Linked DNA regions of Homo sapiens: region 1 is linked to region 2. Evidence: fine-mapped expression QTL. A gene starts in region 2. The other region holds a variant in brackets. All regions are shown on one strand. Distances are from middle to middle. Region 1 overlaps EML1 (EMAP like 1). Region 2 holds the start of EML1 (EMAP like 1).

What was found. PIP is the estimated chance that this variant, and not a neighbour inherited with it, causes the effect. A credible set is the group of variants that fine-mapping cannot tell apart.
Region 1: its variant is the best candidate, but not a certain one, in a credible set for the expression of EML1 in esophagus mucosa (GTEx, PIP 0.59).

The regions. Positions count from the first base shown.
Region 1 is chr14:99,816,322-99,820,710 of GRCh38, forward strand. The region is part of intron 1 of EML1 (EMAP like 1); the gene reads left to right. Among named protein-coding and RNA genes, the nearest start is that of EML1, 25 kb to the left of the region's middle. The variant C/G (reference allele first, on the strand shown) is at 2,021.
Region 2 is chr14:99,791,548-99,795,936 of GRCh38, forward strand. It overlaps EML1 (EMAP like 1), which reads left to right and starts at 1,866. Exons shown (of 22, transcript NM_004434.3): 1 at 1,866-1,996. The coding sequence starts at 1,930. RefSeq lists a silencer at 1,560-2,039 and an enhancer at 1,787-2,618.

The DNA of each region.
Region 1 (4,389 bases), 25 kb after region 2:
TCCGACTAATTTTGTATTTTTAGTAGAGATGGGGTTTCACCATGTTGGTAAGGCTGGTCTTGATCTCCTAACCTCAGGTGATTGGCCTGCCTTGGCCTCCCAAAGTTATGGGATTATAGGCGTGAGCCACCGCACCCAGCCCATGTTTGATTTGATTCCCACAACCACAGTCTGTCTGTAGGCAGATAGGCCTCGTGCTACAGATAAGGACATCAGGAGCTTAGAGGCTGGATGGATGCTTCACTCAGCTCGCCTGGTGACAGTGGGATTCCTGGTCCATAGGTCTTCTTCTGACCCACATTGCTTCTTAGTTTGGTCCAACTTTGAAAGTTGCATGTTTCATTTGAAATGAAGAAGGCCTAAGCCAGAATGGTACAGCTGTCACATCCAAGTGTAAGATCCATTTCTAACTGCCAGAGGCATGGCAGATGCCTCAGAGAAGGGAGGAGTCCATTTGGATGGAGCTGTGTGTGGCTGACATCTTCCTACTCCATGTCCTTCACTTTGGCACGTAGGTTAGCAGTTCTCAAGCTTTTTGGTCTGTCTTGCGTTTAAATGGCTGTTCTCCCAGGCTTGATTTTGTAACACCGTGCTTTGATTCCTTGAGAACATTGATTCTCTGAGTTATGCAGACCTTCCAAATGTGACATATTTCATTATACAATATCAAAAAAGCACATGGGTTAATATCAACCCCCAATGTCATCAAAACAGCATGTAGGTGTTGGGGAGCTGTCAGGCTTACAGAGGCTGGTACAAGTTTTCCAAAGTTCTTTCTTTTTTTTCTGGAAAGCTCAAATTTATCCTTGGCAGCAAATGCTGTTGTTTTTCCTGGAGTGACGGGCTTACTACATTCATTTTTTTGAGAAAATGATTATAGAACACTCAGGTGTGAAGAACCCTGGTTTGTCCATCAGTTGTTCTTTCAAGTGAAAATGATGTTCCCTCAGAAGAAGCTCACAGCTTGACTGCACAGTGCTCAGTTTGGCTGGTGTGCAGCAAAAGTGCTTCATAAAGAGACCTGTACTCAAGGGTTGAGCTTTAATAAAATTAATATTGTTTACAGCGTCATCAAAGGCCTTTGTATATGAACTTGGCATCTTTCTTGTAGGTGGCAGTGAAGAAGAGCACAGCGACGTGGTGCCTGTCCCGGCTGGTGCTGAGGCAGCCCAGGTGCCGCCACCATGGCTCCCGCAGCATTAGTGCAGGTGTCACACAACGACAAAGGAAATTAGAGCTTGGCATTGTTAAGGACGTAATTCTGACCTCAGGGACTTCCTGAAGGGGTCTCAGGGACTCAGGGGTCTGTGGACCACACTTTTAGAACTGCTGCTGTTGAGTATTGGAAAGTTCCCCATTCGGCACATTCCTTGAGGGCCGACTCTGTGCCAGGTGTTGTGCTAGGTGCTGGGGATACTCAGATGAACGGCACAGTCCCTGACTGCAAGGAGCTCACGGTCTAATGGAGAAGGGGGTCAAGTAAACAGATGCTTGCAAAACCTTCTCGTAAGTGCCATGATCACAGTAAGCAGAAGGGATGCTCTGCTAGAGTGTAGGTGGAGCCCCCAGCCCAGCTTGGTATTCTGGTGGTGGTGATAAGGGGTGTTTCCTGGAGGAAGTATCACTGAGCTGAGTTTGGAAGGGTAGAAGTAGAAGTAAAGCCAGTTAAAGAAGATGGGGGAGGTGTTCCATGAAGATAGAGTGGCTCGGGAAAAGGCTTGGAAGCAGGCGAAAGTGTGCAGTGTTCAAGAAACCACAAATAGTTCAGTAGGGCTGCAGTACAAGAGTTGGGGGTGGGGGCTCAGGGATAAGAGGGGGCCAAAGAAGTATCTGGAGGCCAGATCCCAAAGACAATGGAGATCCACTACAGGAGTTTAGCAGGGATGTGAGGTGATCAAATCTGCACTTTGGAAGGATCACTCAGACATAAAGAAGAGGAATGGGATGCGGAGTGATGAGAGTGATGGATAAACCAGTTGAGGTTGTTGCCGGAGTCCAGAAAACACCACTTAGGCCCAAA[C/G]CAAGGAGGTGACAATGGAGGTGAATGTGTGGATATTTAGAAGATATTTAATGTCCTATATCTGCAGATATTCGAATAGGCAGGATTTGATGATTGATTCAATGTAGAGGGCAAAAAATATGGAATCAGTCAAAGATACACCAAGATTTGTAGATTGATGGCTGCACGGTGGTGCTTTCATAGAGGTGAGGGGTGTGGGAAGAGGATTAGAGGCAAGATGACCATGCGAACTTCATGTATCATATTCACACACACGTGTGCATCACTCTATCTTCAGGCAGAAGTGTCCAGAAGGAGTCAGAGCTGGAGCTTGAGAGGGTTCTGGCCTTGAGGTGTCAGCTGAGGAGTCATCAGTGTAGGTCGTGGTTGAGGGCCCCCTTGTTGATGAGATCACCCAGAAGGAGAGTGTGGACTTGCCGACTATAGTCACAGGGCTCAAGTCAGGAGAGAAGTCAAAGCAAGCCACGGGTTTTAGGAGGAGGGAAACCTGAGGCCTGGATCGTCCTGGTCCTTCACGTCTGCAGAGGAGAGCAGAGAAGAATTTTAAATTATTAACTCCTCAACTAAACTACATATCGTCAGAACATGCTTTTCAAATTAATTTAATTGTTGATTTTATTTAGTTTTTTAGAGACAGGGTCTCGCTCTGTCACCCACGCTTCAGTATAGTGGTGCAATCATAGTTTACTGCAGCCTTGAGAAACTCCTGAGCTCAAGTGATCCTCAGCCTCCTGAGTGGCTGGGACTGTAGGCATGCACCACCCTGCTTGGCTAAGTTTTTTAAAAAGTTGTTTTAGAGACAGGGTCTTGCTATGTTGCCCAGATTGGTCTTTGAACTCTTGGCCTCAAGTCATCCTTTCACCTTGGCCTCCCAAGGTGTGGGGACTACAGGCATGAGCCACTGCGCCTGGCCAGAACATGCTTTTAAATGTAACATACTAAACATGATATTTTATGAGAATACAGCCTATATAATATACGATTTTGTTCCTGAGCTCACACAGACTTTAGGTCTGTAAAGGATGGTAAAAATACCAATTACAGTTTATATTTCCTTTTCCCACCAGAACATTTTTATTTTAAAAGTAGGGTGGTTTTTCCTTCCCATCTATGGTTTCATAGTTCTCGGAAATGTTAACCCTTCTTTCTCTATACGAATAAGGTGTCCTGGTAATTTTGCAAGTGATGATTTCCATTATGGTGGGTGGCCACGACGGAAATGATGTTAGAAGTGCCAGCGTGCACGTGAAGTTTAGACAAGATCTGTTCCTTGGCCCTGCGGTGACGGGAAGAGGGGAGATGGAGGTGTTCACTCTCGTCTTAGAGCTTGGTGTCAGGAAGCTCTGTCTGGAGGTTTCCCTCCGTGGTGGGAGGGGTGAAGCAGACATGGGAGGGGGAAAAGGCGGGTCTGCAACAGGAGCCCAGCCTCTCGCACCGAGCATCCCTCAGTGAAGCGCCCAGGCCCACACCACGCAGCCAGCCTCACTGGGCTGGGGGAGGGCTCACGATTACTTTCTGTTTCTCTGCGTTTGAAAATCTTGTGTAATGTGCTTCTGCACTTTTAAAATCAAGAGGAATAAAATAATAACCAAATAAAATGACTCTTAGCCCTGAGCTTGTGACACACAGGCAATTTGCTTATCACCTAGGCCACCAATTAATAGTACTTCCCTATAACTCAGGGCCTGGGGGGTTCCAATGGAAGAGCTGAGCATGTCTGGAGGATGTTCCTGTCTGATACCAGCCATCCTAACTTCCAGAATATAGGCAACTTGGCAGCAAGAGTTTTAAGGTTATTATCAACCTGGTATGTGGTTGTGGAAGTTGATATATCTTTACATATTTTTACTTAAAGCTTTTTAGCTCTACCTATACATGGGAGCAGGGGCTAACACAGTATTTTGTTTTATTGATATATTTTTCGTTTTGTGGTTACTGAAAGTGAATTGTATGGCACGTTGCTCTCACTTGTAATCAGTGACGGTGTAGCCTAAGAAACCTGGTCACTCAACTGCATTGCTCAGCGGAGAGGAAGCTTCTGTACGTCTTGGACCTTACTATTGGTAGCCCGTGCTCAGCAGCTGGCCTCTTGCAAAGGGAGGACTATTGAGGATGAAGAGAAGAATCTTGACATCTCAACCTCTTCTCACCCTGGTTTCTGCATCATAGTTTTACCATTTGGTTAGAACACCAGTTCAATGCACAGTCAGATATACAGTGCAGGCAAAATACGAAACCAAAGATACAGAGTAATTACTTTTCCATTATCCCAATGTACTTTTTCTGTGAGCAAATGAATTCCTAACCACAGCTTGTATACCGGTGTCTTAACGTCAGGTAAAGGATCCAGGGGCAGGTTCCAAATTGAA
Region 2 (4,389 bases):
ACAGGGCACTTCTAATTGGAGGTTGTGCTGTCCCCGCTTGACCTTCCTGTCTTTCCAGCTGTATGGTCCTATAGCAACTTCCCTCTGGCCGGCCCTTGGTGCCTCATTTCTGGAGCACTGCAGACATCCTGGGCTGTTCCAGCAACAGGCCGCGGCCCCTGCAGCCCAGTCGGCAGGCAGACCCAGCTCCCTAACACAGCTCTCAACAGTGGCCTGCCTGCGTGAACCCTCCAAGCGTTCCTCCATCTCCCCCCAAGTCTGGTTCAGGCTCCTCTGCAGCTCTTGGGGCCTCTCTTACCTGGCCCCTTGCCCTCAGTCCAGTCTTATTTCCCACTTGTCTGCACAATGTCTGCAGGCACCGTTCCTTCTTTCCTCACTAGCAGTGTCCTGCCCACTGTCCTCCATCCACCAAGTCACAGTCAAACCCGCAGCACCTGTGGCCCTTCAGCCTTCACTCACAATGTATCTTCCCAATTAACAATCCTGCTAGGACAGGAATAAGCTCTTAAACTTCTCCCTCTGCCCACAGCATATAGCACCAGTCCTTACTAACCCATGCACTAACCGTGCCGCACGCAGAGTGACAGAGCCCTGTCCCTCACCTGCCATCTACTGATGTCCAAGCTGGGCTTCTGGAAGGACAGGCCTCTGAGCCCAAGCGAGACCTACGAGTTTTCCTAATTTTAACTTACTCAGTTCTTATTTCACCTACTCTATTCAACCTGCACAAGTTAGTACCTACCATTTCAGATTTTGGCATGGAACTGAATTATGACTGATGCAACAGGAAGTGTAAACGTTCTGCAGTCTCTTTGGGACCAAGCTCATTCTTGGGTTAGATGATCCATTTTATATATTCTAATTTATTGCTTCCCACTCGTTATTTGGCGCATCTTTACTTACTTTACTCCATGGGTATAAAATGCGAACCATTAACAGCATTTATACGTGTATGGCCTGGAAAAGTTACAAACTCATAGATCTATGTGTTTCTCCGACTGCGCTATTTTCTCCTAACTCTTGGTGTCTTTCTGATGTAGAATAAATACTGATTTCCTTAGTCCTGTAGCAAGTTAACAAGCCTGTAACGTGACAGATCTGTATCCCAGGGGCTGATCATAGAGAAACCACAAAGCGATGTTTTAGCTGCGTCGAGTCCTCAACACGGGGGACTTCCAGCCTGGTACCAGGATAGCCTCTCTGGCCCAGTGTGAGCGAAGGTTCGAGCTGACTTGCCAGTCCCGTGCTAAGTCTCACTGAGGCAGGGCCTTGCTGCCGCGGAAAAACGTGTGGACAGAGGAACGCGCCGGTCGGATGTGGGCCACAGTGAGCCGCGGCGTGGAAACGGCCGAAATGTGCGGGCGCGTTGTCCATGTTTGGTCGTGGAGCTGCCCGCGGGCGCGGGAACAGCGCGTCGGGGGCGGGTGGGCTTGGGTGTCCGTGGCGGAGGTTACCCCGGGCCCCACGCGCCCGCTCTCTCCCGGCCTTGGTCTTTGTCCCCGCGCCCCCGCAAGGGCCGCCCGCCGCGCCCCGCAGCCCCTGAGCCCCCGTGCGCGGAGGCGGGGCCTGGCCAAGGGGACAGCGGGCGGCAGACGCGCCCCTGCGGCTCCCAGGCCGCCCGGGCCGCGCTCCCCGCGGGGAAAGAGGCCGCAGGCGCGGGGAGGCTCGGCCCCGCCCCGCCACGTCCCCCTCCCGGCCCGGGCCCCGCGGCCGCCGAGGCCGCCCCCTCGCGGGCGGAGCGGGCGCTGGGCTCGCGCGGCTGCGGCGGCGGCGGCGGGCCCGGGGTTGCCATGGTAACCGGCAGCAGCAGCCGCCACAGCAGGGCCGGCCCCAGCGCCAGCGCCGGTCGCGGTCGGGCTCAGCTCAGTGTGTGGTGAGCGGCGGCGGCGCGGCCGGGCCGGGGAGCGGGCGCGGCCCGGCGGCCTCAGCATGGAGGACGGCTTCTCCAGCTACAGCAGCCTGTACGACACGTCCTCGCTGCTCCAGTTCTGCAACGGTGAGGGGCGGCCGCGCGGGGCCGGGGCGGCGAGCGGCTGGTGGCGGGCGGCGGCGACGGCGACGGCGGGGACCAAGCCGAGGGGCCGAGGCCCGGCGGCCGCGGGCGAGGCCGCGCAAAGTTGTTGCGGAGGGGCGCGCGGTCCCCGTTCCCGCCGCCGGCGCATTGTGTTGGAGCCGCGGGGCCGCGCCTCGCTCCGGGCCGCCCCGGGCTCCCCGCCGCCACCCCGGCTCCCGGCACTGGCGCGCGGACCCCGCCGGCTCCAGCACCCGCGGAGCGCGCCCGGGCGGAGGCGCGTGGGGCACAGGGCGGCGGGGAGGCCCGGGCAGCCTCCGCGTTCCGGGGAACGTGTTGCTTTTTTGCTTCCCGACCCACATCTGTTTGGAAATGACTGGATGAAGAACTCGGGAAACAAATCCTTTAATAACAAAACCCTCCTGCGAGGATGCACGCAGTGTTTGGACCCCCAGAACCCATTCAGGTCTACTTTAATGAAATCATCACAATTTAATACAATCTAGAGCTTTTTAAATGGAAAGCCAAAGTGGACCTGGCCTCAGTGTTGCTTCTTATTTTGTTTATGGGATAATGGATTCTTTTTTCTTTTTTTGTTTTTGCAATTTTACAGGAAGGAAACATTCATATCCACCAATATGGCATCTTTTTAAAAATATGAAATCCTACATGCTTGAAAGATTTCAGTCTCATTGGCAGGGTTGAAAAAGATTTTCATAGCACACTGAATATTTTATCAGAACATGATGTGTGATAATTCACGCACAAAAGTTAACCACACTTTTTTTTTTTTTTACATGTTGGATTTATTGCTCCATCAAAGGGCCCCAAAAGTTTGTTAATGGGAAAAAAAAATGTGTATTTGATAGAATTTGCTTAAGTGCAGTCGGAATAATTTTGAATTCTAGACCCTTTGACAACTGGAGCAATTTATTTTGCTATTGTATTGTGATTTAGGGAAAGTTTTCTTGTTATTCGACACCTGTTTGTCACTGTAGCAGTAAAGAGTAATGAGTGTGTTGATTCATCCTCTGTAGTGGTATTTTTTATCTCTGGTGAAATTTATCATCTTGTTCATGGTAGAATGTATACTCTGATAGCTTTTGCAGCTTATACTTTACATCTGAACCATTTGTGGGCCTTCATGAATTTAGTAATTCCCTCTTCAGTGGAATTAAAGAAAGTTTCTGCTTTTTCTCTGAATTTAACGCCAGTTTCCAAGAGCAGAACACCTGTGTTTTTGAGCCTCAGAAGGTGTTGAGGGCAGGTAGAATGTATTTGGTATGCTGGTGGTCCCTGGAATACTTTATAGTATAGAGTCATGGGAACGGTTTTGCTCTCCAGTAGGTTAAATAGATTCCTCAATTAACATTTTGAATAGGTTCCTTAATTGACTTATAATCAATCATATTTGAATTATTGTTTTTGATCTAAAAAGTAGTTATATGCTTATGGTAGAATTCTCCCTATGCTTAGTTGGAAAGATATGTGGCTGAAATTTGTATTAAATGACTTTGAGGCATCAGGTCTTACAAATTTAATCTGTGGGCGTATTATTGACAGCTTGATTTGCGATATGAAAATGAGCCTAGATATTTTTATTGGAGCAGTTGTTTGGGGCCTGGTCATACTGTTCCTAAATAGCAGTTTAGTCATGAAGTTGACCTACACGTCTGTTCATGAATGTTTTCGTTTTCTGCATTTTCCTTTTAATTGCCAGCCTAGAGATATTGGCATGGTATTTTACTGGTGGTGATGTCCAGAAGAAAGTAAAAACCAACTCTTATATTTTGTAGAAGTATTGGTTTAAAGAAAAACCACCTTAACTAGAATCAAACAATAAGATCACTTTATAACTATTGAATTACTTTTCTCAAAAAGTTCTCAGCTCTGTATTTGTTATTTTTTTTTTAGGTTGTCTAATGAATAAAGTTTAAAGCAAGAGTGGCCTATGGGGCAGAAGTCAATGTTAACTGGTGATGTCTTAGGCAACAGATGTTTTGATGTGAAACATTTTAAGAGGCTTTCATTAAGTGAAGATATAAATGAATACAAGTCAGTTAATTACTATGATGATTCAATTAAAGCAGTGGATCACAGAAATGCCATTTCACTAGGAACTAAATTAAACATTTGGATATTTCATTAGCTACATTGGCAAACAATTTTTTCTTTTTAAATGAGAGACTTACATTACAATGGCAAGACAGCAGCATAATACATGAACTCATACATTTTCATATGTTCAGTATGCGTCATGCTGTTAATAGTGACAGAAACTAAAAAATCATGGTTACAGCTTTAGAAAATATAATTCACACATATTATTTGGATGACTGTCATAGTTAATTTCCTTCTGGTCAAATAAAGACAAGATC